2 separate regions of the Homo sapiens genome follow, and region 1 is linked to region 2. The links come from fine-mapping of genetic effects on gene expression. Tissue or cell type: esophagus mucosa. Region 2 holds a variant in brackets; the other region holds the start of a gene. All regions are shown on one strand. Distances are between the middles of the regions.

Region 1 (9,508 bases), 28 kb before region 2:
TCACATCCCATCCCGTCAGCAGGAGAGTAACATCCTCTGACATCACACCACTGCAGGTGCTCACACCCCAACCAGCCAGCAAGAGCGTAACATCCTCTGACATCACACTACTGCAGGTGCTCATGTCCCAACCAGTCAGCAAGAGTGTAACATCCTCTGACATCACACTACTGCAGGTACTCACCCCAACCAGTCAGCAAGAGTGTAACATCCTCTGACATCACACGACTGCAGGTGCTCACACCCAACCAGTCAGCAAGAGTGTAACATGCTCTGACATCACACTACTGCAGGTGCTCACACCACAACCAGTCAGCAAGAGTGTAAAATCTTCTGACATCACACGACTGCAGGTGCTCACACCCAACCAGTCAGCAAGAGTGTAACATCCTCTGACATCACACTACTGCAGGTGCTCACACAGTAACCAGTCAGCAAGAGAGTAACATCCTCTGACATCACACTACTGCAGATGCTCACACCCCAACCAGTTGGCAAGAGTGTAACATCCTCTGACATCACACTACTGCAGATGCTCACACCCCAACCAGTTGGCAAGAGTGTAACATCCTCTGACATCACACTACTGCAGGTGCTCACACCCAAACCAGTCAGCAAGAGAGTAACATCCTCTGACATCACACTACTGCAGGTGCTCACACGCCAACCCGTCAGCAAGAGTGTAACATCCTCTGACATCACACTACTGCAGGTGCTCACACCCAAACCAGTCAGCAAGAGTGTAACATCCTCTGACATCACACTACTGCAGGTGCTCACACCCCAACCAGTCAGCAAGAGTGTAACATCCTGTGACATCACACTACTGCAGGTGCTAACGTCCCAACCAGTCAGCAAGAGCGTAACATCCTGTGACATCACACTACTGCAGATGCTCACACCCCAACCCATCAGCAAGAGTGTAACATCCTCTGACATCACACTACTGCAGGTGCTCACACCCCAACAAGTCAGCAAGAGGGTAACATCCTCTGACATCACACTACTGCAGATGCTGACACCCCAACCCGTCAGCAAGAGTGTAACATCCTCTGACATCACACTACAGCAGGTGCTCACACAGTAACCAGTCAGCAAGAGTGTAACATCCTCTGACATCACACTACTGCAGGTGCTCACACCCCAACCAGTCAGCAAGAGTGTAAAATCTTCTGACATCACACGACTGCAGGTGCTCACACCCCAACCAGTCAGCAAGAGAGGTAACATCCTCTGACATCACACTACTGCAGGTGCTCACACCCCAACCAGTCAGCAAGAGTGTAAAATCTTCTGACATCACACTACTTCAGGTGCTCACACCCAACCCATCAGCAAGAGTGTAACATCCTCTGACATCACACTACTGCAGGTGCTCATGTCCCAACCAGTCAGCAAGAGTGTAACATCCTCTGACATCACACTACTGCAGGTGCTGACACCCCAACCAGTCAGCAAGAGTGTAAAATCTTCTGACATCACACGACTGCAGGTGCTCACACCCCAACCCATCAGCAAGAGTGTAACATCCTCTGACATCACACTACTTCAGGTGCTCACACCCCAACAAGTCAGCAAGAGGGTAACATCCTCTGACATCACACTACTGCAGGTGCTCACACCACAACCAGTCAGCAAGAGTGTAAAATCTTCTGACATCACACGACTGCAGGTGCTGACACCCCAACCAGTCAGCAAGAGCGTAACATCCTCTGACATCACACTACTGCAGGTGCTCACACCCAAACTTTCTCAGGGCACACCAGCCTTCCAAGGGTTCCCCAGAATAAAAACTATTTGGCTTGTTCTTAAAGACATTGCGGGCCATAGAAATAGACAGACAGAAATTATGATTTGTTGAAAAATATTTTTTCCTAAGTACAATATTTTACTTCGTTTTGGGTAAAGGATTTCACCCTTTGCTGGCTCATTAGCCACTACCTGCTGATGGACCTTCTCAGTCTCCTGTCAAAGGCCCCCACTTTCTGAGGCTGCCTGTAGTGTATTCCCTCCATGGGATGTACTGTTCCTCGATTCCCTGACAAGCAAGCTCAATGCTTCTGGGCACTCTGAATCCTTGGAGAGCCAGAGCTGTGTCTTTGGCAAGAGTGGAGAAGAGCTCTTTTTATTTCATATTATGGGGTAGGGTCAGGGAGACTCAGGCAGAGCTGCTTAGGCCCCAGAATCTGATCGAAGTGTCAGTGAAACCAGTTCCTTTAGTCTGTATGCTCTCCCTCTAATCTCAATATGAGTCTAGAATGGGGACCAAACTAACCTCAGCTTCTGCTCCTCCAGAAGGCTGTTTGTGGGTTAAACTACTGGCTTATTACTCTCTCATTACATCCCACCCATTTCTCTGGCACACCCAAGTATGTCCGGACCCCAGAAATGGCAGAATCCTGGCTCAAGCTGAGGCAGACTTCCCCATTCCACAAAGGTGATGCGCGTTCATGCCAACCCTGGGCCAACGGGCCCGATGTAGAATCCCTGAGAACCCAGAGGCAGCAAGTTCACTGATGAGTCACAGCTGAATGACACCCAAGAGATAAGGGAAGAACTTCATTGTGAAAGAGCCCAGCAAACCTCTTAGGTTATGGTTGTTCTCACTCCCTATCAGCGTCACGTGGAGTTTTGCCAAAGGAAGGACTTAGTCATCAAACAGATCCTGCCAGTCATCTGGTGGCTCCTGGAGTGTGCCAACTGAGCCTTTCTATCCTCGTGGTCAGGAGAACGAGGCTTGTTAAGGACTCTTCTATTTATTCCATCTTCTTAGGACAAGCCATCAGCCCCTCTAGCAAGGCTGCCTGCTAGTCCATTCGGCACCTTTGTGCAAACTAGGAAGAAGGGATCCATCTGGGGGGATGGAGAAACAGCTTCCACAGCACAAGTCCTCCAGAGCAGACAGGAGACGGAAAGTATGGCACGTCACGGCCATCATGACCTACCTTTTACATGTGGGGAACAAGCCCAGAGAGGGCGACGAACTCGCCCAGGGTCTGTAAGTCGCTGGTTTTTAAAAAGTAGAGCTCGAGTCTCCTGAAGCCCAGCCCATGTTCCTTCCCCTGATCCAGTGTGTGATAAGCAGTAGCTTCATGGCCCCATAGGAGGGAGGCCTTCCTTCCCCAGGGCGCAGAGCAAGCTCAAGGACAGACAAACTCAGAGGGATGTCTTCTCTCTCACTGTTGTACTTACCCATGTCAGAGAGAGACATCATTTCTGAGTCTCAGAGGGGCTGATGACATAAAGGTGAGGCCTAAATGGAGGCAGGTGACTAACAATGTCTTCAGTTCATTCCCCGCATCCCCAACCACATGGGGAGTGCCGCTTTTGCCCGCCTGCGACAGTGGTTCTCAACATTTGCTGTGCCCCGAAATAAAAACAGATTGTGGGCCCCGCCCCCAGAGCTGTCGATCCAGTGGGTCGGAGGTGGGGCCTGAGCACTTGCATTTCCAGCAAGTTCCAGGGTGATGCTCACGTTGCTGGCCTAGGGACCACACTGAGAACCACTGTCCTAGAAATACGGTCAACCCACCCTTTCCTCCCTCACCTTCTTCACTCTCTTCCTCCCCTTCTCCGCCTGTTTCTCCTTTTCCGCTTCCTCCAATTCCTCTCTGGTCCTCTTCTCACCTTCCAATCAGCTGGCTCTGCCACTGACTGGATGCCTGACTCGGGCAAGTCACCTCCCGTCTCTAGGCCCGAGGAGAGGCAGTCGGCTAGGCCGAGATGCCCCTGCCCGGCTCCCCCCTCGCCAGGGCGCTCGGCCTGGGCTCCCCCGTATCCCAGATCCTCTGTGCAGCTGTGGCCGAGATGCCCCTGCCCGGCTCCCCCCTCGCCAGGGCGCTCGGCCTGGGCTCCCCCGTATCCCAGATCCTCTGTGCAGCTGTGGCCGAGATGCCCCTGCCCGGCTCCCCCCTCGCCAGGGCGCTCGGCCTGGGCTCCCCCGTATCCCAGATCCTCTGTGCAGCTGTGGCCGAGATGCCCCTGCCCGGCTCCCCCCTCGCCAGGGCGCTCGGCCTGGGCTCCCCCGTATCCCAGATCCTCTGTGCAGCTGTGCTGGGAGGGAGCTGCTGCGTGAATGAGATCATCCTCCAGCTGCCCTCCAGCCCCGACTCTGGGATTCTGACCTCTCCTTCCTTCCACGTCTGAGCTTTTCTCTCTCCAGTTAGACACGGTATCTGGAGTCTTTCTAGGGCGCGAGGAGGGGAGGATACCCTGGAACGCGGGGTAGGAGGCTGAGGCGAGAGCCCCGAGCAGCGGCGCCCGGGCCCGAGCGGGAGGCCTCCAGCAGGGGGCGCGCCGGGGCCGCCCAGGGGCGGGGTCCGGGGTCGGCGGGAGGTGACCTGCGCCCCAGGGGCGTGGATTCCGCCCGGGAACTCGCGGCCGCACTTAAGGAGCTCGGGCCAGCGCGAGGGGGAGCAGGGAGGAAGCCCGGCTGCTGCGGACCTCCTCGGACCCGGACCCAGCCCCAGCCCGGCCCCAGCCAGCCCCGACGGCGCCATGCGGGGTCCGAGCGGGGCTCTGTGGCTGCTCCTGGCTCTGCGCACCGGTGAGGCCCCGCTGTGAGAGCCAAAGGCGGGCGGGGGTCCCGGGGCGCCGCGGCCCGGCTGAGCAGGTCCCGGGGCTGGAAATGTGCCTGAGCCTGCGGCTCCGGGGCAGTGAGACGGGGGAGGCAGGGGCTCGGGGTCGAGTGAGGACGGCGGAGGGAACTAGCACTGAAGCGCAGACGGGGAAGTCTGGAAGGCTTCTTGGAGGAGGCGGCCTCGAACACCCGAGGCTTCCGACGCTCCAAGGAGAAGCGCGGGCTGAGGCGTGGTGGGGAGGCCTCGGGGTGTGGAGAGGAGCTCCCGGAGGGCGGCCCCTCCCGACGGGCGCAGGAACTCAGGAAGACTTTGGGGGCTCGGAGCAGCTCTTTCTCCCGAGCCCCCGCGGGAGAAGATTCAGAGGGACTGACCGGCAGGCGCGGGAGTCCGCCCGGGGGTTTCTGGCACATGCAGGGATGGAGGTGGAGACGGAGGCCGGGTCCCCTCGCGTCGGCGCCCCGGGGAGTCAGGGCCCGGGATGGTGGGACGGGAGGCGGGACCTCGGGGAGCGGCTCGCGGGGATCGCGGGCGGCGACCGCCGAGGGGATGGAGTTCGTGGCACCGCTGTGGCCGCAGGCGACGCACTCATCAATGCAAACGATGAAGCCACCGCCACCCCCGCCCCGTCTGAACTTTGCAGTTTCCCGCCTGGGTGGTGGGGGGCTTGGAGCGCTGCGGAGGGGAGGGCAGTTCGACTTCCCAGGCCTCCGCCAGGAGTGGGGAGGGGAGGGCTGTGGCGGAAGCTTCAGTCTCGGCCCTTGGGCTGGTGGGGCTGCCACGGGAGGGTGACCTGGTTTCGGGCGGAGTCATGCGTTTCCCTCCCTCCTGCACAGGCCTCTGGCAGTGCTGGCTGGGGCAGGGTGAATGGCAGAGGAGCTCAGGCCTGAAAGTCATCGGCCCCAAGGGGCTCCAGCACCCCTTCCTCTGGGCCCCTAGCCTGGGAGCTCTCGGGGACTCTGACCCGGTCAGATCCTGAGGCATAAGCAGAAGTCCACTGAGGATGTGGGTGTCTCAGGCTCTCTACAAGGGGGTTTACTTTCAACACAGAAGGTGGGGTTTTTATCTGCTCTCTCAGAAGATGAAGCAGGCTCAGAGAGGCTTGAACCTACCCTGATGGGTCCTCAGCCTCCCCTCTGTGCCTGCCGTCTTCCCTTGGCAGGGCCTGGCACTGTGCCCACCGAGGGTGGCTTTGCAGCCAGCATCATCGCAGACACTCCCCGAGGGGACAGGGCTCCTGGAGGGCAGCCCACCCACAGCCCCCTCACCTCACTCTCCCGTCCCAGTTCATGAGGAAGGCCCAGGGACACTGCTGGGTGAGGGAACCTACACGAGCACCCTCTTCGGGAGGCCTGGAGAGGGGAAGAAGCTTCCACTTCCAGGGCCTGCCGAGACTCCCTAGCCAGTGCTCCCACCAGGTGGGGGTAGCTGAGAAGCGACCTGTAGACCCTCCCATTCCTCCATAAAGGGCCGGGTTCTGAGCCATTCCATTTGCCAGCAGCCGTGCTCCTGGTCAGAGAGGCCCTGAGCACAGGAATACCAGCCCTTCCCCTGTCTCTGCGCCTAGTGCCTCCCTGTGGGAGGGCAGGGCTGCCCTAGAGGACTGGCTGTCCAGGCGAATGGGCTCACACAGAACTGCTGGAGCCACCCTCCATGGTGGGCCGGGGCTGGGCAGGGCGGGGGAGCCGGGCCTCACGGTCCCCTGCCCGCAGTGCTCGGTGGCATGGAGGTGCGGTGGTGCGCCACCTCGGACCCAGAGCAGCACAAGTGCGGCAACATGAGCGAGGCCTTCCGGGAAGCGGGCATCCAGCCCTCCCTCCTCTGCGTCCGGGGCACCTCCGCCGACCACTGCGTCCAGCTCATCGCGGTGAGTCCTCTCCCTTCCACCCTGCCAGACAAGAGGGCTGTGACTCAGGAGGGAGCACACAACAGCCCCATTCACCAGGAAAGGAGCCGACCTCGCCCTGCCAGGCCCGGCCGATAGGATCTCCCGAGTCTCCCTGGCCACGAGGCCAGCTTGCCTCCCGCCGGGCCCAGGCCAGGAGGTGGGAGCCTCAGGAGGACCCGCTGCTCAGAGGGCGCCAGCAAAGAAAGGCACCTGAGAGGCTTCCCTTCCACAAGGCCCCTGCCAAGGGGGCCCAGATGGTGGCGGCCCCTCAGTGGCCGCAGGCGGTTACTTGCTCATCTTGCCATGGGGCTCTCCAGAATGGGGCTTGTGTGGTTTCTGGGGAAGGAGGAGCAGGGGCTGGACTCCCAGGTGGGTGAGCATGGGGTAGGAGAGCAGGTCTGCTGAGAACTGCTAAATGACACTGACAATCCTCCGAGGCACCACCAGAGAGTGGCGTCCCTCCTGGGTGGGTGCAAAGAAAGCTGGCTTTTCATTCCAGCTCTGCCCCCCATATGCCCCCAAGACCTAATCCAATCACAGGCCCACACTGGGGCCAAGGCTGTGGGTCAGGCTCCATGTGAGGGCAGAAACCCCAAGCACAGACCACCTTAGAGAAAAAAAGCTAGAAAACCTAGGGTAGCAGTAGAGGCGCAGGGTGGAGGGACAGAAAGCGAGGGAGACTCACTTGTCACTGCGCACCGTTTTCTGCTATCTGATTTTTTTACTATGATATCTGAGTCCTGCAAAATCAATGATTAGTATTTTTTTTTTAACATTATTAGGAAAACAAGGTGAATCCCTGGCCTGGGAAAGGGGGAGAGCCCTGGGCTCTGGTTGGGCTCCTGGGACAGATGAGAAGGACAGCACAGCCCTCTGGGGCTTGGGGTGGGGCCCCAGGCCATCTGGTAGGTGTCCCGAGTTCTTTGCTGAGCAGGCCAGCTGGGCCAGGCTTGGCTGAGCCACATTTCCTTGCAGGCCCAGGAGGCTGACGCCATCACTCTGGATGGAGGAGCCATCTATGAGGCGGGAAAGGAGCACGGCCTGAAGCCGGTGGTGGGCGAAGTGTACGATCAAGGTAAGAGGGTGCAGTGGGAGGAGAGAGGACAGCCTGCGCTGGAAGTCAGCTCTCCAGGCTGCCCTTGCTGGGCCTGGCCTGAGCTGGCCATCAGCCCTGTCCACAGAGCAGTCCTGGAGTCCCAGCCAGAAGAACGCCCTAAGGCTCTCTCAAATTCCCCAGGGACAGGAGCTCCAGGGACACAGAGAGCTGCCCCAAGTCTGCTCTTGCCCGCAGGGAGCCCAGCAGCCCCCTAGCCTGTGCCCACTCAGCTCTTACTGCGGGCTGTCCCGGGCCTGGCGTGGTGCCGGGCACGGTGCTGTGTGCGTAACTGCCTTGGGTGAGCAAGGCGTCCTTAATGCCGAGCCACCTGCACTCTCAGGGCCTCCCTTCAGAAGCCCGGCTCCGGGTAGGGAGGTGCTGTCTGGCAGCGGCACAGCTCAGCAGACCCAGCCCTTCCCCTTCCCATGACTTCTGTGACCTTGGCCAACCTCCACTTCCCAGACTGTATAATGGGGATAGTAACACCTGCGCTGTCACCCAGACTAAATGAGCCAGGCCGTGTGCCCACCTGACATGTGGTATGTGCTGGAAAGTGTGAGTTCCTTTGCCCAGTCCCCGCATCACACATGGGACCTGCCTCCAGCTCAGCCAGCTCCTGTGTCTCCCCCGCCACCTCTGCTTGGCCGGTGCCTGGCCTCCATCACAGTCCAGCGCAACTGTCACCTCCTCCAAGGTGCTCCCTGAGCCCCTCCCTCTCTGGAGCAGGGCCTCTCTTGCCCGCACCCACATGGCCTCTGCAAGCCTCTGCCTGCTCAGTCTCGTTAGTCCTCAGAGGAGGGTCCAGTCTTCCCCTGTGTCTACCCTCTGGAACTCCACACAGCATCTCGCTTGGAGAAAGCACTGGCTGGTTCCTTGTTGAATTAATGGCCATCAAATGACACACGGCACAGTCCAACCCTGCACACCCATCAGCCAGAAACAGCTCTGCCTCCGAGGCCCCACGCACCTCTTCCTCTTTAATTAACTCGACACCTCTACTGAGCACCTGCTACCCGCTGGTCATAAGCATGCAGCAGTAAACGAAGAGACCTTCCTGCCCCCACAGAGCAGAGAGTAAATAAACACACCCAAAACAATACAGTGACACATGTTGGGGTGCTGTGAGGAAAAGGGAAGGGCAGGACAGAGAAAACGAGGGTTGCGGGGAAATCCACTGAAATAGAGCAGGCAGGACGGTGCTCTGCAGAGGTGATGGGTAAGCTGAGCCCCGCAACCATCTCAGGCGGTCCAGAGGATTGGTAAGAAACAAGGCGGGTGAGTCAGAGGATGGTACCAGACGGAGCTACTCAGGTTGGCGGGGGCCAGACCCTGGTGTGCAAGAAGTAACACTGGCTTTATGTTCTAGAACTCAACTTCATTCTGATATGGCCTCCCACACCACCGGGCAGTTTGTGCACGCGTGCATGCCTGCGTGTGTGCGCCCGTGCGATGGGAGACCCTCTGGGCATCAGTTCCCACAGCTGAGTCTGTGTTTTGCCTGAGCAGCCCCTTGGAGCCACCTTGGCACAGGGGAACGCTTTGCAAGGCTGCAGAGCCCTGGCCCCACCACACACACCCTGCAGCATTCAGGGTCGTGAGCGACTTGGGGCCACATCGCTAGTTCTCTCTGTCTCTGCCTCTGTCTCACTCTCCTTCAACCCCCTCAGCACCAGGAAATCGCCGCTCCTCATCTGGGGAAGCCCCTCCTCGGCTCCCCTGCTCCTCCCAGACACCCTTCTTCCCATGACCCTGACACCATTCCCCCAAACCCTCCAAGTTCTCCTAGGGGCCTAGGCTCTTGGAAAGCAAGGACTTGCTGGCTTCTGCTTTCTGTCCAGCTAAATAACTCCCCTGATGTGAGCAAATGTGGACCCAGCTAAGCACCAGCTGCTGGGGAAGGAAGAGGGGGAAATCAATGAATACATCAATATCTCAGGATCGTCTCTA
Region 2 (10,554 bases):
AGATGTTGCCACCTCCCTGTGGTGAAGGCCTTGGGGTCCCAGGATAGCAGCTTCTCTTTACACTTCTCTCCACTCCCGGAACGTCCCCACACACACTGCTTTACCCCCCTCAGGCCACAATTCCGAGCCCTGGGCTGCTGAGCTCAGGTCAGAGGACTATGAACTGCTGTGCCCCAACGGGGCCCGAGCCGAGGTGTCCCAGTTTGCAGCCTGCAACCTGGCACAGATACCACCCCACGCCGTGATGGTCCGGCCCGACACCAACATCTTCACCGTGTATGGACTGCTGGACAAGGCCCAGGTGAGCCAGGGTGGGGCTACCTCATTGAGGGGTGTGCAGCAGAGGTAAGCTGAGCCCCTGGGAGGCCTCAGTCTACCTGGAGCAGACCTCTAGAGAAATTGAGGAAGCCCGGGGGAAATTCTGTGATTTTCACTTACGCAAGGACATCCCTCCAGAAACTGTCCCCTCTGCCTCCTGCATCGTTGATTTTCCCTTCTCAGTCGGACCATTTTCACCAACATGAAACATGCTGTGACTTCTGCCATCCTTAAAGAACAAACTAACCTCTTGGTCTCACATCCATCCTCTTGCAGCTGTAATCCTGCTCCCTTTTTTTCTTTTTTTTTTGAGACGGAGTCTTACTCTGTCGCCCCAGGCTGGAGTGCAGTGGCACTATCTCGGCTCACTGCAAGCTCCGCCTCCCGGGTTCACGCCATTCTCCCACCTCAGCCTCCTGAGTAGCTGGGACTACAGGCACCCGCCACCATGCCTGGCTAATTTTTTCTATTTTTTAGTAGAGAAGGGGTTTCACCGTGTTAGCCAGGATGGTCTCGATCTCCTGACCTCGTGATCCGCCCACCTCGGCCTCCCAAAGTGCTGGGATTACAGGCATGAGCCACTGTGCCCGGCCAATCCTGCTCCCTTTCGAAGCAAAACTCCTCCAAAGAGTGGTCTGCTCTGGAGTTAACAAGTCCTCTCCTCTGGCCTCTCTTAAGGATGGAGACTGAGTTAGCAAGTCCTCTCCTCTGGCCCCTCTTAAGGATGGAGACTACCCCAGACAGGCTCCCACCAGGGCCCTGAAGCTGTTCTTGTCAAGGTCACAGTGACCCATGTTGCTAAACCCAGTGGCCATTTCTCAGTCTTCATTTTACTTGACCTCTCAGTGGCACTGGCCACAGCTCTCCCTCCTCCTGGAAACACCTTCCCCTGCAGATGCCCAGGTCCTCAGCCCTGCCTGGCTGTCCTCTCACTCTCTGGCCACTCCTCAGTCTTCTCTGCTGATTTCCTCCCCATCTCCCTGACCTGTTAGCCCTAGGATTCAGTTCTCAGCCCTCTTCCCTGTCTACAGCTTACCCTTGATCTCATCCAATCCCATGTCATCAAATACCATCTATATACAGATGGCTTCTAAATTTACATCTTCAGACATCAGTCCCAAACTTGCATATTTAACTACATACTTGACATTTTGACTTGTGTTTCTAACAGTCATCTCAAATGGATCAAGTCCAAAGTTGGACCCCCGTCCCTCCTTCAGTCTTCCCCACTTCAATTAAGAGCAACTTTAGCTTTTCCATTTCCTCGGGAGTCATTTTTGACTCCGGTCTTCCTCTCGTGCTCTACAGCCAATCTATCAGCAGATCCCATTGGTTGTGCTTTCAAAATATACCTAGAATTTAAACCCAGGTTGTCTCACAATGGAGCCACTGGTTTCTAACCACTCCCCCTCCCCCGACTTATGCTGAAATTGCCTTCTCCACACCCACCAGCACCACAGAACTGCAGAGCTGGCTGGCTCGCCAGGCCTGTTCCTAAACTTTGACATTGTGAACTGACGCATGTTCCTTCCTGTCATCTTCCCCACAGAACCCCTCTATCCCAGGAGTGCTTTACTCTGGGTCCCTGGGCTTCCCTAGGGGGTTGCTAAGTCCTCTGAAGTAATGTGGGAGAAGAATCCTGGGTGGATGTGCATTTTTCTGGGGAGAAGGCTGACAGCTTTCATCAGATCTTCAGGAGGATCTGCGAGTCCCTCCAAAAAGACTGAGAGCCACCTGACTCCTTCGTTCCTCCTTGATCAGTACTTAACACTTTACATAGACATTCATGCATGTTCTCCAGATGTCCTTTATTTATATTCGTATTCATAAGTTCTCATACTACTTCTGGTCTTTTTAGTAGCTCTTTTAGGGCTGTAGCCACAGAACGGTCATTCTAGTGATTCTGAGCAGGGTGGAGAGGAGTGCAGCATCCCTGGGCGGGTGGGTCAGTGAAGACACGCCCAGCTCACCTGATATTCTGTGACTGGTTGCAGAACACAAGTCCCTCTCGAAATTGTTTAGGTTTGTGGGGAGATATCTGTAAGACAGAGTGAGAAAGCCTTATGGAAAAGGCCAAGAAGTGCTCAGCAGGCCTAGCAGAACGCTCAGGAATCCCACCCACACCATCCCTCATTTCTGGGTCTTTCTTCCTGGACATCTCAGGCCTCAGACCTGCATCCAGGAGCTGGAGCACCGCAGTGCTTCTGAACGCCTCTTCCAGTGGCACCTGCGGGCCTAGTGTCCCCACACCCGCTTGGGTGACAGAGGCCAATCAGTTGTCAAGCTTATGACTTCCAATCAGAGTGGTGGGGCCCTGAAATGACTTGCTCTTTGGGTCACTGTATGTAAAGCAATTTGCAGCTAGCGGCACTGGGCGGGTGACCCTGCCTGAGCCCAGTGAGGAGCAGGTCGTCTGCCTGCGGTGCTTCCAGGACCTGTTTGGAGACGACCACAATAAGAACGGGTTCAAAATGTTCGACTCCTCCAACTATCATGGCCAAGACCTGCTTTTCAAGGATGCCACCGTCCGGGCGGTGCCTGTCGGAGAGAAAACCACCTACCGCGGCTGGCTGGGGCTGGACTACGTGGCGGCGCTGGAAGGGATGTCGTCTCAGCAGTGCTCGGGCGCAGGTAGGACAGGCCCGCCCTGCCGCCTCCCCTGGTGCTATTCAGACCCCTTCACCCCAGAACCCTGAGGGAGCGGGGGGCGCTGCGGGTCCGGGGAGGCGGGTGGAGGCCCGTTCGCAGCAGTCCAGGTGGGGTGTCCCGGGAGGATTTTGGCCAGGAGGCTGCGGGCCGGGAGGGCGGGAGCCCGGCGGGTCTCCCAGACGGACCTGGGTAATGAGTGTGAACGCTCAAAACGGCGGCGCGGGGAGGATCTGGGGCCACGGCAGAGACATGCGTGTGCTGCCTTTCTGGAAAGAGCGCATCTGGAAGGGCAGCAGGGGAAAGGAGCACAAAGAGGGAGGCTGCGGCGAGTTCGGTCCCGAAAGATGCCCCCACCCCCACCCCAGAGCGGGCGCCTGAGGCGGCCACCGCGGCCCGGGCTTCGGGGCCTGACCCGCCGCGTTCGTCCCCAGCGGCCCCGGCGCCCGGGGCGCCCCTGCTCCCGCTGCTGCTGCCCGCCCTCGCCGCCCGCCTGCTCCCGCCCGCCCTCTGAGCCCGGCCGCCCCGCCCCAGAGCTCCGATGCCCGCCCGGGGAGTTTCCGCGGCGGCTTCGCGCTGGAATCCAGAAGGAAGCTCGCGAAGGCCGGGCCCGGCGTGGGCGGGAGCAGGCGCCTCCCCGGGAGCCCCGCCGCCCACGGGCGCCACCTGGCGCTGCTACCTGAGGCGCCGCCCCCGGGCCCGCGCGGCCCTTCCCGCCAACCGCCGCCTCCCGCCACCTGGAGCCGCGCGGGCCGCGCCGGAGGAGGCCGGTTGCCCAGGAAACCGCTGAGTCCGGGCTTCCCGCCGCCCGCCCCGCGGTGTCGCCCGAGGGGCCCGCCCGCCTCCTCCCCGCAGCCCCGCGCCCCCGTCCGCGAGGCCCCCTGGGGACGCGGTGGCCGCCGAGGCGCCTACACCCGCAGGCCGCGGCCAGGCCGTCCCAGGAGGCCCCGGCGCCAACGGGACCCGGCGCGTGGGACAGCGGCCTCTGCTGGCGGCGGCGGGAGGGAGGCCGGACCGGGGCGACGGGGAGAAGCCTTCGCCCGCGGGACCGTGTCCGGGGTGGGGGCTCCAGTTCCTCCGACCGCCCGTGCGCTGGGAGGGAGGCCGAGCCCGGGGAACGCCGCGTGCCCTGCCTCGTCCCCCACTGTGGCCGCGCCAGCTCCATCCCGGGCCAGCCGCGTCCACGGGCCCCCTCCCGAGTCTCCTCAGGCTCTCGCCTCCCCTACCCCCGTGGGATGCCCACCGCCCGCACCCACGCCCGAGCCTGGCGGCAGCAGCCGCCCCCCGCCTGAAGGGAGCCGGAGGTGACCCAGGCCGCGGGCTCCCGAGGCCCCTGAAGGGCTGCGCGTGGGGACCCGCCATGCTTCTGGGTTCCGAACGGGGGTGAGCTCCGTCTCCTCACCCGGCCCCGCACCCGCTGGGCCTGGGGACCCCTCACTCCCCGTGCCCGCCCCTCCGCGAGGCAGCAGAAAGCGCCCGGCCGGGGCCTCTCTCTACTCCATCTTGCCACAGTTGTCTGAGAAGCCAGAAAAAGTTTCCAGAACTGGCAGCCCTTAAAAAAAATGAAGAGGAAGAGAAGAAATGGGAGCAGGCAGCCCTCGTCAGCAGACCGGGAGCCGCGTGGGCGCGGAGCCATTTGCATTCCGGTCTGCGGGGGCTCGGGGATGCTGGTGACAGGCCCGGTTCCCGGTGGCTCGCCCCCACCTGCGGGCGTCGGGAAGGATCCCTTCCATCTCTCAGCCGCAGAGGAGGCCCTGGCAGCGCCCCGGCTGTAGCCATGCAACCCCGAGGAGTCCCGGGCACCTTCACCCCACCGGGAGGGGCCACAAGGACCTGGGCCTCGGCCACCAAGCTTTGTCCCCTCTCGCTGTGGGGGGCTAGTGATTCTCCTCCGACCTGACGATTGCTTGGTTTTTTCAAAAGGGAGTTTTGTGCGGTGAGAAGTGTGTTTCTGTGTGGCTAACTCTGGGCTAGCGTGCCGTGGCCATTGAAGGTGTGGCCTGCGTGGGTGCAGTGTAAGTGACGCTGGATTGTCAGGTGGCAGCAGGGG[A/G]CCCCTGCTGTGTCAGTGCTAATGAAACATGTTGGTTGGTTTCTAAAATAAAGCCAAACAAGCCAGCACATGCAGAGGCTTGGACCCTGATAGAAACTTCTGCTGCCGATTTCTTTCGTTTTGTTAGGCACTCAAAGGCCTACCTGCTCCACCGAGAAGGGCAGATTCCATTCTCCAAGAGCCAGTCAGGGACCACTCTCATCCTCTAGTCAGTGAGGCCCCCCGCGCCCTTCTTCGACCTGGACTGGTTCTCTGGCTCTTGCAGGGCCTCCGCTGCCCTGGCACATTCCAGCTGCCTCCACCCCATCAGGCTCTGGGGTGTCTGCCCTTCTGTGGATGGGTGCAGAGAAGGGTGCAAACTTCTCTGCTGCCCCCTGCCCCACACCTCCAAAATAAGCGGCCCACATCTTTTCTCTGGCAAGCTCGCTGCTAACTCACTGGAGGGGGGCGTGGGGAGCGGATCTCCCAGAGACCCTACAGTGGGTGCTCTGTGGTATCTACTGAGGTGGGGGTGGGCCCGGCTGGTCTTCATCAGTGCTCTGCTCTCCCTCTGGAAGGGGAGGTTTTCTCTGCTTCCCTCTCTCATGGCTTCACTTGGCCCCCACACCACCACCCCTCGCCGCTGTGGCCATCTCCCAGAGCCAGGTCTTGCCCACCACTGCACACAGGCCATTTTCCATGAAGTCGGCTCAGTTATCACAAAGCCAGTCAATTCCTGGGGACCTGGATGGCCAGAGTTGACCGACTTTGTCTCTGCATCACATGGACGAGTCTCAGCTGCACAGTCACTCCAGCTCGCCTCATGCTACCACTTCCCTACCCTGAACTTCTGGAAAGGAAAGTTAACCTTTGGGCACCCTAGCCCCTCATCTGAAAAACACACAGTACGATCACCAGCTTGGTGAGGTGGTTGTGAAGATCCAGTCTAAGATGCAAAACACTCAGCACAGTGCTTGGCACACGGCATAGAGACTAAGACACAAAACACTGCACAGTGCTTGGCACACGGCATAGAGTCTAAGACACAAAACACTCAGCACAGTGCTTGGCACACGGCATAGAGTCTAAGACACAAAACACTCAGCACAGTGCTTGGCACACGGCATAGAGTCTAAGACACAAAACACTCAGCACAGTGCTTGGCACACGGCATAGAGTCTAAGACACAAAACACTCAGCACAGTGCTTGGCACATGGCATAGAGTCTAAGACACAAAACACTCAGCACAGTGCTTGGCACACGGTGGGTGCAGGAAGGATGTTCACTGTCACTACTGCTATTACTCCAGAGCCTGTTTTCTTGTCTTCAATTTGGAATTCCTGGGAGAGATCATCTGATTGGCCCAGTGTGCGTCAGGCATCTACCACTGGACCAGTCAGCACAGGCCAGAAGCAGGGTGTATAGCGGACACATGGCCACCGAGGCCCCAGAAAAAGGAAATGAAATCCTTGTGAGTCAGGCAGCCATGCCCCAGCACCCCCATGGCTACCAGGCCTGTTGTAGGGCTATTGGCCATTTGTTGAGCAAATACTTACTGATACCTACTTGTCAGTACCACCCCTAGACCTAGGCAAGAGGGATTCTAGTCCTCGGTTTTGTGCTTTCAAGCAGTGCTTTTCAGACCTTGATGTGCACATTAACTGCCTGGGGATCTTGTTAAAATGTAGACTCTGGTTCAGAAGGGCCAGCATGAGACTGAGAGTCTGCAGTTCAGACCAGCTCCCAGGTGGTGCCTGTGCTGGTGGTCCAGGGACCACACTTTGAGAAGCAAGCCTTCAGAGGCCTCCCCCAGACCACACCCCACACCCCACCCACAGAGGGAGCAATCACAGGGAAAAGGGATGCGTTCACTCAGGGGTCATCTTTTCTTTTTTTGAAACGGAGTCTTGCTCTGTTGCCCAAGCTGGAGTTCAGTGGCACAATCTTAGCTCACTGCAACCTCCGCCTTCCGGGTTCAAGTGATTCTCCTGCCTCAGCCTCTCAAGTAGCTGGAAATACAAGCGCCCACCACCACACATGGCTACTCTTTGTATTTTTCATAGAGATGGGGTTTCACCATGTTGGCCAGGATGGTCTCGAACTCCTGACCTCGTGATCCGCCCACCTCGGCCTCCCAAAGGCCTCCCAAAGGGATTACAGGCATGAGCCACCGCACCTGGCCCCAGAGCCCATTTTTCACACCATGTTCCAGATACCTGGGATCCTGGACTTTATACCTCAAACAGCCCTGAGCCAGCTTCCAGGGTCTGGAGGGCCCCTTACCTAGATCCTGCCTCCCAAGGTGGCCAAAGCTCTCGCAGGAGGTGTAGTTGAGCGTGATGAGCAGGCTGCCGTGTCCTCTGCAATGCGCAAGGCCCTCGAAGCGTGGGTTGCAGCCTGGATGGGAAGAGAGCGGGTGGGCTATGGCGGGGAAGCCTGTTCTGTCCGCAGCTCCTATTCTAGGCTGCTGAGTCTTTATAAAGGTTTGTTTGTCAAAGTAGGAGGACAGGACACATTCTCTTTAATAGCTTGTTAGCTTGATTTGTAACATTTAATGTGGAGCCACATGGTAGGCGGGCCTCTGTTGGTACTCTTGTCCTAGGCCCCACAAGTGCTTGGGGTCGGCCAGCCTGCTGTGTGCACAGCCCTGTGCTCAGCGCTCTGGAAGGTACAAAGAAGTAAGTACACGGCCTACTAGCCCTGCCCCCCTTGGTCTCATTTGGAGAGGCCACCGAGGTGGTGTGGTAGAAGAACACTGCTGTGCAGGAGGGACAGTGACAGGATAGACAGGGCCTTGTGGCCCACACGGCACAAGCCGTCACCCCCAGCTTCAGACTCCTCCCCAGGTGTTCTTGACTGTTTACAATGAGGATGTGTTCCTCAGGACAACATTCTTGAAAAAGATTCACACAACATTTACAATAGGTATAAATGCTACAATTTTTTAAAAAGATATATTAATTAGGCTGGGTGTGGTGGCTCACCGCTGTCAACCCAGCCCTTTGGGAGGCTGAGGTGGAAGAATCGCTTGAGCCCAGGAATTTAAGACCAGTCTGGGCAACATAGTGAGACCCCATCTCTACAAACAATTTTTAAAAAAATTAGCCCAGTGTGGTGGCCCACACCTGTACCTCCAGCTACTTGGGAGGCTGAGGTGGGAGGATCACTTGTGCCTGGGAGGTGGAGGTTCCGGTGAGCCGTGATGGTGCCACTGCACTCCAGACCAGACCCTGCCTCAAAAAAAAAGATATTCCAATTTTGTGGAATAAAAACCAGCTCACTCACCTAAGATTCAGGAAACTTGAATTCTCATTCCACTTTGGTATTCACCCTGGGCCAATACTTTCTCCTCTCCCCATCTCAGTTCCCAAATCTATAAACTGAGAAGCGGGTATGGGGCCTCGACGATTTCTAGCTCTAACAGTAATTCTTAGACTAAAACACATCTGAGTCTTCACGGGGTTGTTGCCTGTGCTGAAGTGAGAGGGGCCGGGTGGGCTCTTTTTGTTTCTGCCTTTCTCAGCTGCCTCTGCGTTGGTGCTAACAAGCCAGAAGCTGGGTTTCACAGCGGAGAGTCATATACGTCAAAGCTTCTCGCCTTGAGCGTATGTGAGGATCACCTGAGGGTTTATTAAAACATAGACTGCGAAGCTGGGTGCAATGGTGTATGCCTGTAGTCCCAGCTACTTGGAGGTTGAGGCAGGAGGATTGCTTGAGCCCAGGAGTTGAGGCCAGCCTGGGCAACATAGTGAGACTCCCATCTCTAAAAATGTATATATTGGCCAGGCATGGTGGTTCACGCCTGTAATCCCAGAACTTTGGGAAGCTGAGATGTGAGGATTGCTTGAGGCCAGTAGTTCAAGACCAGCCTGGGCAACATAGGCCCAACCTCTACACACACACACACACACACACACAGACACAAAAGTGTTTTTAATTAGCCAGGCGTGGTGGTGTTTGCCTGTGATCCCAGCTACTCGGGAGGCTGACAGGGGAGGATTGGTTGGGCCCAGGAGTTTGAGATTGCAGTGAGCTCTGAGCTATGATTGCACCATTGCACCCCAGCCTGGCAGGTTCTCAGGTGGTCTGATGCTGCCGGTCAAGCCACCTCACTTTGAAGAACACTGTTCAGGGCAATGTGAGCTCACACCCCATGAGCGCATTAACAGGTGCCTGCCCCAAGGTGTCCAGGGCTTGGGTGGGAAGGGTGAGTGGTTCCCCCTAACCAGGGAACTTCATGGAGGAAGTTGGGCCCAGCCTGGAAGACAAGCCAGGTCTGTGTCCGTGGCCCCCGTGGGCTCCATGTGGAGGGGTGGAATGTGCGGGAAGGTGCCTCAGCGCCTGGCCCGGGTCTCCGAGCACGCAGGCTGTCGGTAGAATGGCATTCTGACTTCACCCTTTCCCAGCATGCGGCTCCCCCGTCCCTCTGGCCCTGCACTCCCCACCCTCACAATTCCGAGCAGGGCCCTCGAGAACAGGAGAGAACTCAGAGATCAGCATGTGAAGGTGGTGCGTGGTCGGAATACCCCCCTTCCTCCTTCCTAGCTTCTGATGTCCCTGGAAACCTCCAACTCTACAGAAAAAACAAATGTTATCTGCTCTACTGAAGTCAGTCTTTGGGTCGCTGGAGGTTGAAGAGAAGGGCCTGGTGGTTTACCGGGCAGGGCATCCTTAGCCAAGATCCCCATCCAACAACTTGTGGCAGACTCTGCTGCTGGTCTTCTCCCCTTCTTCCTGTCTAGCAGACTCCAGTTTTGTTCGGGTGGCAGCGTGCCCAAGTACAAATACTCACTCCTGCGTGCCCAGGCAACTCGGTTCTGGCTGAAGAAACCTGAGAAGTTTCAGGGCAGCTGTTTAGGAGGAACAAACAGCTAGCACAGCCCATTGCCCCGGAGCCCGTCTCCCTCTTCCTGCCCGGAAAGTGGACAGGATCGCTGGAAAATGGAGCAAGAAGCACAAGGAAAAGGACCGCATGGTCAGGACAGCAGAGCAAAGAGACAAAAGCGTTCGGCTCAGGTGGCAGCACCCAGGCCTGGAACAGTCTAGACTCCCTGACAGCTGATTCCTGTCTTCTCTTGTTTCAGCTGGCTGCATTCTGAATTGATATAAGTGGTAACAGTGGAAAGAGCCCGAGATGGGCCCTTGGGGCTCCCAGGCTCTTGTCTTGGCTTTGTGTGGCTCAGGGAAAGTCACGGCCGCTCTGTGGGCCCTGTTCCTTCATCTGTGGGGTGACCCAGAAGGCCTCCAGGGTCTCCTTAGGCCCTTCTGTAGCTCAGATTCAAGAACCAGAGCTGGTCCCAGCTGAAAGTTCCCGAGATGGGCATGAGTGGAGGGTTTCAGGGATGGGGCAGGAAGTCACCTTGTGAACAGGTGACACCTGGGGTTGGGGGTCTTCTCAGTGTTCAGCCAAAAGGAACCCTTGAAGCACAGGATTTGAGGGGTCTGCAATATTCAGTCCAGTTGTTGGAAGCATTTTAACATCCCAAAGGGGAATTGTTTCTAAGTATCTCTTTGACTTCGACCTTCGGATTCACATTTGTCCCTGGAAGAAGCCCCAGGG

Evidence for each region. PIP is the estimated chance that this variant, and not a neighbour inherited with it, causes the effect.
Region 1: MELTF starts here. The variant in region 2 is fine-mapped to the expression of MELTF in esophagus mucosa (GTEx, PIP above 0.99). The same link has a PIP of 0.9 or more in cerebellum and nasal epithelium.

The regions. Positions count from the first base shown.
Region 1 is chr3:197,024,692-197,034,199 of GRCh38, reverse strand. MELTF (melanotransferrin) reads left to right here and starts at 4,383. Exons shown (of 16, transcript NM_005929.6): 1 at 4,383-4,546; 2 at 6,290-6,444; 3 at 7,441-7,540. The coding sequence starts at 4,498. RefSeq lists enhancers at 2,368-2,662, 1,767-2,966, 3,354-3,990, 3,991-4,627 and silencers at 4,161-4,650, 4,701-4,750, 4,941-5,120.
Region 2 is chr3:196,996,296-197,006,849 of GRCh38, reverse strand. MELTF (melanotransferrin) reads left to right here. Exons shown (of 16, transcript NM_005929.6): 14 at 114-301; 15 at 2,751-2,949; 16 at 3,399-5,110. The coding sequence ends at 3,478. It overlaps MELTF-AS1 (MELTF antisense RNA 1), which reads right to left and starts at 3,944. Exons shown (of 4, transcript NR_038285.1): 1 at 3,877-3,944; 2 at 2,880-3,248; 3 at 2,491-2,753; 4 at 2,106-2,356. It also overlaps the pseudogene RPSAP30. RefSeq lists silencers at 2,986-3,385, 3,426-4,215, 4,366-4,445. The variant A/G (reference allele first, on the strand shown) is at 5,015.